Linked DNA regions of Homo sapiens. The protein of the gene in region 2 purifies or fractionates together with the protein of the main gene of each other region. This does not show direct contact. Each region holds a gene or a part of one and is shown on either strand. Other genes may lie near its edges.

Evidence for each region.
Region 1: the proteins of TRIM45 (region 2) and ZBTB40 purify together in Homo sapiens (affinity purification with mass spectrometry; one large-scale study listed by BioGRID and IntAct). This does not show direct contact.

Annotation. Positions count from the first base shown.
Region 1 is NC_000001.11:22,510,632-22,514,449, reverse strand, and holds part of ZBTB40 (zinc finger and BTB domain-containing protein 40), read right to left. Parts: intron 3,272-3,818; coding exon 3,103-3,271; intron 2,775-3,102; coding exon 2,316-2,774; intron 1,527-2,315; coding exon 1,320-1,526; intron 1-1,319. UniProt on the Homo sapiens protein: May be involved in transcriptional regulation.
Region 2 is NC_000001.11:117,115,212-117,119,029, reverse strand, and holds part of TRIM45 (E3 ubiquitin-protein ligase TRIM45), read left to right. Parts: intron 1-262; coding exon 263-996; intron 997-2,284; coding exon 2,285-2,414; intron 2,415-3,340; coding exon 3,341-3,455; intron 3,456-3,818. UniProt on the Homo sapiens protein: E3 ubiquitin-protein ligase that plays a role in the regulation of inflammatory response.

The DNA.
Region 1 (3,818 bases), about 95 Mb from region 2:
AGAGAGGAATCAGGAACCTTAATCACAGAGGGCTGAGGAGGCTATCTTAAGGACTCTGGATTTCACAACTGAGTGGGACAAAAAGCCATTGAAGAATTTGGAGCAGAGAAGTGACCTGATAGGGTTTATTTATTTTTTAAGTATCAAGAGAAATGGTGAAAGCAAGACCAGCTTTGAGGCTACTGTGACAGTCCACGTCAAACAATGGTTACCTTATAATTTATAAAGAAATGCTCTAAACAATAGGTAGGCTGCTCCAAAAAGCCTTCCCTGACAATGTACCTCCTCCTCCCCTCCAACTGGACTAGAGACCCCTTCTCCATCCTTCCTCATCACGCTGGTGTTATTCCACATTATACCGCTGACAATCTGCATTGTAACGGGCGCTACACTCCCCTCTCCCTGCCCCCTTCAGGCCACAAGCTATGGGCACACAGGAATCCCAGCTCAGCCACTCGGCATCTGCCACTGTCTGATCCACGGTAGGTGCTTAGTCAGGGTCCTTCTCATGCTTGAACTCGACTTCAAAGCTCAAATAATTTTATGTAAATTCTCTATAACTTTTAATGGCAAAAACCACAATGACTTTTCCACAAGACCTAATATAAAGTCATAGGAGGTTAGCCAGTCTCTTTCAGAAGCTCTCCCAGTAAGCAGTTTACGTCTGTGCACAGAGCTATTCCCAGTCGTCTGTTTGCCTAGAGGTTGTGCATTGTTTTTTAATTTTATTTATTATTATTATTATTTTTGAGACGGAGTCTCACTCTGTTGCCCAGGCTGGAGTGCAGTGGCACAATCTCAGCTCACTGCAAGTTCCACCTCCCAGGTTCACACCATTCTCCTGCCTCAGCCTCCCGAGTAGCTGAGACTCCAGGTGCCCGCCACCACGCCTGGCTAATTTTTTGTATTTTTTAGTACAGATGGGGTTTCACCATGTTAGCCAGGATGGTCTCAATCTCCTGACCTTGTGATCCGCCTGCCTCAGCCTTATTTTTTTTTTGATACTTAACTTTTGTGGGTACACAGTAGGTGTATATATTCACAAGGTACATGTGATGTTGTGCTGCAGGCATGCAATATGAAATAACTGCATCAGGGAGAATGAGAGATCCATCCCCTCCAGCATTTATCCTCTGTGTAATAAATAATCCAAATTACACTGTATTTAAAATGTACAATTAAGTTATTATTGACTTTAGTCACCCTGTTGTGCTATCAAATTGTTTTGTTTTTGAGATATATATCACACCTAATCCAAATGGGGTTTAGGCAGTTCGCAGTGAAAGTCTGCAGGAGAAATGAACTGTGCCCCGCCTTACCTTCTGAGTGCTTCTTCTTGGTGTGATAGGCCAGGGCGGAGGCCTGGGTGAAGGTCATGAGGCAGTGCTTGCACATGAACGGGCGGTCCCCGGTGTGAAGGCGAAGGTGGTTCTTCAGGGTGGAATTGGCTGCAAACTTCGCCCCACACTCTTCACAGGAGAAAGGCTTCTCATCGAAGTGCTCTGTCAGCTTATGGTACTGCATGCCTAGGGAAGCCAAGCACACCAGAGGCCAGAAGAGATGCTACTAATCAGTGTTAGGAATCTAGCACAGGATACCAAGAGCACTGTCTCAGCCCAGGCCTCCAGAGGAAGCACAGCATGAAGCCCAGGGTGCCAGGCCACGCTGGTACCCACTGCACACAGCCACGCTGCTCTCTACCCACCAACTGGCATCCCCAAAGTCACCTGGCCTTACTCCTGGATGGAGCCGGTGGAAAGTAATGCTGGGCTTATCTTCCCCATTCCCTTCTCTCTCTTAAATAGGACCCTGCCACCCAGAACTAGGGAAACTCAACTTGCTTTTATATTTCATTAGGTTTATCCAAATTCTAGGACAAGGGAAACCATTCTGACTGTACATCCCATGATTTCCATGACTCTTGTTTGTTACCAAGAAACAAGTGGCACATGGAAACATGAGCCAGGTATTAAGTAGCTGGTTATCACTGTAAACAGTAAGAGCTGTAAGTTATTGTGTGCTCACTCTGTTACAGGCAGTGCACTGGTGTTTAGCTCTGTTACCTTAAGTCTTCATAACAATGCAACAGAGTAAGTGGTATCAGGGTGCTGCTTTAATAGATTTGGGGAAATCAAAGCTCGGGGGCTGATTCCAAAGCCCATGCTCTTAAAATATTACCCTGCCTCTGTAGGAACCTGCTCTATTTTCTAAGCCCACCCACAGCCCTCACTGCACACAACTAAGGGAAAGGCCTGAAATCCAAGCTATAAAACCCACAATTATCATCCTCTGTTCCTTTGCCTTCTTGAACGTACCTGAGGCATGGGCAAATTCTCTGCCACAGAGGTCACATGTCACTGGAAGCCTCTTCTTCTTCTTCTTGGGGGCATCGGGCTCTCCACCTGCACCATGGGCCTCCAGCTGATGTTTGTCCAGCTCTTTCTTTGAATCCTTGGTCTCACTGCACTCCTTACACTGCACCTGTTTGCTCTTAGCCACCCGGCAGCGCTTCATGTGCACCTTTAGGCGGCAGTAGAAATGGAAGCTTTTGTCGCAGGCCTTACAGATGAAGCTCTTCTTGGCAGGGTCTGGGGAGGCTGAAGCCTCTTTCTCTTGCTGTCCTGGCAAGGAACCAGTCTCTCCTTGATCATTCTGTTCCCCAGGCTGGCTGTCTTCTTTGGCTGCCTTTTCATCTTCTTTGTTGTTGGCTTCAAGGTGAAATTTATTACTCACCTTCCACGTTTCCTTCTCTCCATCTTCCTTAGTAAGGACACCTGCATAAAAGAGACATCTCGTGGCTCTGCGAACTCTCTGTTTCTATTTTGCTTTATAACGTTTCTAACACACTTCTTACAGGAGACTAGAGACTACTTGAGATCCTCAAAAACACTCTGAAGTAATATCATTGTCCTCCTTACTTTCCAATAAACACAAAGAACATTTTCCCCCTATGTCTCATGACTTTTTTAGGTATTCAGAGCATATAAAATGAATACGTAACTTAAGGTTGTGATAAACTATGATATGAAATGCTGTCTCTTTCTTCAAGAAACAACCTGGTGTGCTGATAGGAACCCCCTTCCCACCTGGCCCGTTCCTTACCAATGTATGCCAACTCCTGCATGACAGGCTGCAGGCCTGGAAAAGATTTGTGGACACTGCACAGGAGGTGGCATATTTCAATGGCCGGGACTGATTTTTCCATGGCTCTGCTCAGCACTGCTCTCAGGGAAGCTTCAGGGCTGGCTGTCTCAGAGGGAATGCTCAGAATCTAAATGAATACCAGGAGACAAAGGTGTGGGGTTAATCTCAGCAGATTTTCCCCATGGTTTTCAACCTAAAAAAAAAAAAAAAAAGCTAATCCCAGGAAGGCACTGCTCCATTTATAAGCAGTTTATACATCGCCTTGTGATAAATGTAGTGGACAGCTCTGTTTGCCAAAGAACAGGAAAACTAACAAAACAGAAAAAAAGAAGCATGTATCCAGATAAATGTGCAAATACAAAGAAGATACATGCAGGGAAGCATAAAGCATTTTCTATAAGAAATAGCTTATCAGAAACTAGGAGTCTCCCAAAGACCTTTTCTGGATCTTAATACTAAAAGCTTGAAAAGCTATAGGATTTGGTCGTCGGTGTGTCTGTCTTGAAAATCAGAATAAGTTTTCATAATATATAATTGTCTCAATGTCTGGAAGTAATTCTGCATGATCAGTGGCTTCATATTTTTAGATACTTAGATGTACCCATTTAAACGTCATTTTCTTTCACAAAGAAACTCAGCGTTTTAAAGAAGGTTCAAATAGAAGCTTTAAAGAG
Region 2 (3,818 bases):
ACCTTCTGCATAGGCATGTAGCCAGCCAGAGCCCTAGTCTGTTCACACGTTATTCTATACAACAGCTCTTTCAGGTAGGTATTGTCCCCACTGTACAGATGAGAAACTGGAATCAGAGAGGTTCATGCAATTAGAGATTAGAGCAAGGAATTGAAATCAGGTTTGTTTAACTTCAGATCCTGTGCTCCTAAAATCTCTCTGCCCAACTATTCCCAACAGAATTATCCCCTTATTTCCTGTTACTGATTCTGTTTGCCCCTAGGCGGCAGAAGAAAACGACTTACCACACCATGGTGGACCTAAAAGACTTGAAAGGCTACAGCCGGATTGGGAAGCCCATCCTGTGTCCTGTTCACCCTGCAGAGGAACTGAGGCTGTTCTGTGAGTTCTGTGACCGGCCCGTGTGCCAGGATTGTGTGGTGGGGGAGCATCGGGAACACCCCTGTGACTTCACCAGCAATGTCATCCACAAGCATGGGGACTCTGTGTGGGAGCTCCTCAAAGGTACTCAGCCCCACGTGGAGGCCCTGGAGGAAGCCCTGGCTCAGATCCACATAATAAACAGTGCCCTCCAGAAGCGAGTGGAGGCAGTGGCAGCTGATGTCCGGACATTCTCGGAGGGCTACATTAAGGCCATTGAGGAGCATCGGGACAAGCTGCTGAAGCAGCTGGAAGACATACGGGCCCAGAAGGAAAATTCCCTGCAGCTGCAGAAGGCCCAGCTGGAACAGTTACTGGCAGACATGCGGACTGGAGTGGAGTTCACCGAGCACTTGCTGACCAGCGGCTCAGACTTGGAGATCCTCATCACCAAGAGGGTGGTGGTAGAACGGCTCAGGAAGCTGAACAAAGTTCAATATAGCACCCGTCCTGGAGTAAATGATAAGATACGCTTCTGTCCTCAGGAGAAAGCAGGCCAGTGCCGTGGCTATGAAATTTATGGTACGATTAATACCAAAGAGGTTGATCCAGCCAAATGTGTCCTACAAGGAGAAGGTAGGAAGGCATTTCCCATTGACATTGAGAGGGCAGTGGACAGGGAGGTGGTGTGTGAAGATTGGTGGCTTGTTCTGCTAGGAAGCATGCCCTACTGACCAGGTTACCAAAGGTGGGGAGATAAACTGATCTGAAAGACAGTGACCCCCACCTTTGCCCTTTCTGGTTTGTTCTGGCTAGGGTACAGTTAATACAGGAGTGAGGCTTGACCCTTTTCCAGTTCAGAGAAGTAATAATGGCTGAGAAACACACAGATCATGTTTTGTTTCTATCAGATGGCAGAACAGAGACAGTGCCCGTTGGAGGTAACAGCAGTGACTAGGGCCAGGTGAAATTCTGCCTGCTCAGAGAGGAGCATGGCAGGCCCTGGATTCCTAGATCAAGTTCTGAAGGGAGTTTCAGAGGAATGAGGAAGATGAGATTACGGTTTCCTTTCCTTTAGGCCCTTTTTGGTTCACATCAACTTTACTGGCATTTAAAAGGATATGGTAGGTGTTTCATTTAATTGGGGGAAAAAATGGTTTTTTTTAACGAGTGTTCCCTTTCTAATGGAAGCATATTATTAAAACATATGTTTCACAGGTCAGTAGGTCAGTCCTGATAGGAAGATTGCATCTTAATGACACAGGCATTCTTAACTGTTTGGAAGCCATAGATCTCTTTGAGAATGTTCTCTCCTACAGAAACACCCAGTAACTTGTGCATACAATTCCAGATTTTTAGACTCTTCATAAGCCTTTCCATAGACCTCATAGTAGTTCATGAACCTCAGGTTAAGAAACCCTGTTTCATCTGAATGCTGGAGTAGGGGCTGTAGCTACTGGATATCCCCCCAGTACCTTGGCATGAGCTACCAAGTTGCAGAGGATCTCAAAACATGGAGGGTCGTGAGGCTGGTCAGCTGTACTCCCTGCCTAGCCCAGCAGGATCTGGAGCTTAGGGAGGGTGGTTTTGGGGTTACTATCCTCTCTCACAGGGTCTAGAGGTTTTCTTTAAATACCTCGGTCAGTCGTGAGTATTTTTAAAGCATAGGACCTTCAGTCCTAGGACTGAAGGTAAGGTCCAGGATCCTGTGTGATCCAAAGCAGCTGCTAGCTGAGAGAACCAGGCCAACCAGGAAGGACTCCCAAGAGGCGTACTCTGGGAGGCAGAAGGGGAAGAGAAAACAAAGGGACCCAGGGTGGTTACAGTAAAGTACAACCCTTTGTTCTGAAGAGAAAAAGCAAGATGGAGATGTAGTCACTGCAGTTTACATTCGAGGTGAGGACCGAGTGTTTATCTTTTTCAGACCTCCACAGAGCCCGGGAGAAACAGACGGCCTCTTTCACCCTGCTTTGTAAGGATGCCGCAGGAGAAATCATGGGCAGGGGAGGAGACAACGTTCAAGTTGCCGTTGTCCCTAAAGATAAGAAAGACAGGTTTGTATGACACAATTAGGTGTCATGGATAACAGGCAGTGAGAAAACTGGAAACATGAGGTCCTTTAAGATATTGGAGCTGGGCACAGTGGCTCATGCCTGTAATCCCAGCACTTTGGGAAGTGGAGGCAGGAGGATCGCTTAAGCCCAAGAGTTCAAGACCAGCCTGGGCAACATAGGGACACCCTGTCTCTACAAAATTAAAAAAAAAAAAATTAGCCGGGAGTGGAGGCATATGCCTATAATCCCAGCTATTCAGGAGGCTGAGATGGGAGGATCCCTTGAGCCCAGGAGGTCGAGGTTGCAGTGAGCTGTGATTGTGCCAGTGCACTCCAGCCTGGGCAACAGAGCAAGACCCCAGGTCCAAAAAAAAAAAAAAGATATTGGAGTGTAACTCACTAGTTACGTCTTACCTCCCCATAATACTATGAAACGTTACGTGACCAAATGTGTTTTCTTGTGTGGGTTTTGTATTCAATTCTCTCTCAAAGCTATGGTCTGCCCCTCAGATTGTTTTCATCTCAAGCTTTAGAATAAGTTGAAAAATATTCTGTGTTAGACTGAATGGTACCCTTTTCAAAATTCAGTCTCCCTTTGGTACTAAATTATGCCTGGAGCATGTTTATATTTCTCTGGAATTGTAGAATGGAGGAGGGACAACAGAGCAAGAGGGTTCAACAGAAGCCTGTTGAAAAGGACACAATAATATATTCAAGGAATTTGTCTGAATATCAGACTAAATTGGAATTTATGCTGTTTACCTTCTGTTGTAAAATTAACTTCTGAAGCAAATGGAAGAAGCATCCTGTTTGGGTATATTTAACATTAATACTGAATGGGATGGTGTAGAGTTTACATTCTGAAATAGTAGCAACTGAAGCCAGCTTGTGGAAGTGAGTGGTGTTTTGACTCTTATCTCCATTCAGCCCAGTCAGAACAATGGTCCAGGATAACAAGGATGGGACATACTACATTTCCTACACCCCCAAGGAACCTGGCGTCTATACTGTGTGGGTCTGCATCAAAGAACAGCATGTGCAGGTAAGACTGGTGCACGTGCTTCCCTGAGCTCCCTGGATTCTACTGTCTTAGGATCTGGAGACATTTCACATAGGATCAGCTATACAGAGAGATTGAATAGAATCCCCATGTCTTCTTCTTCACTTTAGAAACAGCCCAGATTTTGCTACTCTTATTCTTCCTGGAGGATGCTGTTGACCATAAGAACCCTGTATCCCTGTGTCACCTCCAGGCAGTTATGCTTATAGCTTATCATTCTCCCAGTTGGTTTCTTAGGATTCTTAATATGGAGAAGATGTCTTGATCACAGGGGGTGATCTGCCAGCAGACAACCATGCATATTCAAAAAATATAATCTAGCTCAGGATTTTCCAGTTTTGTCCA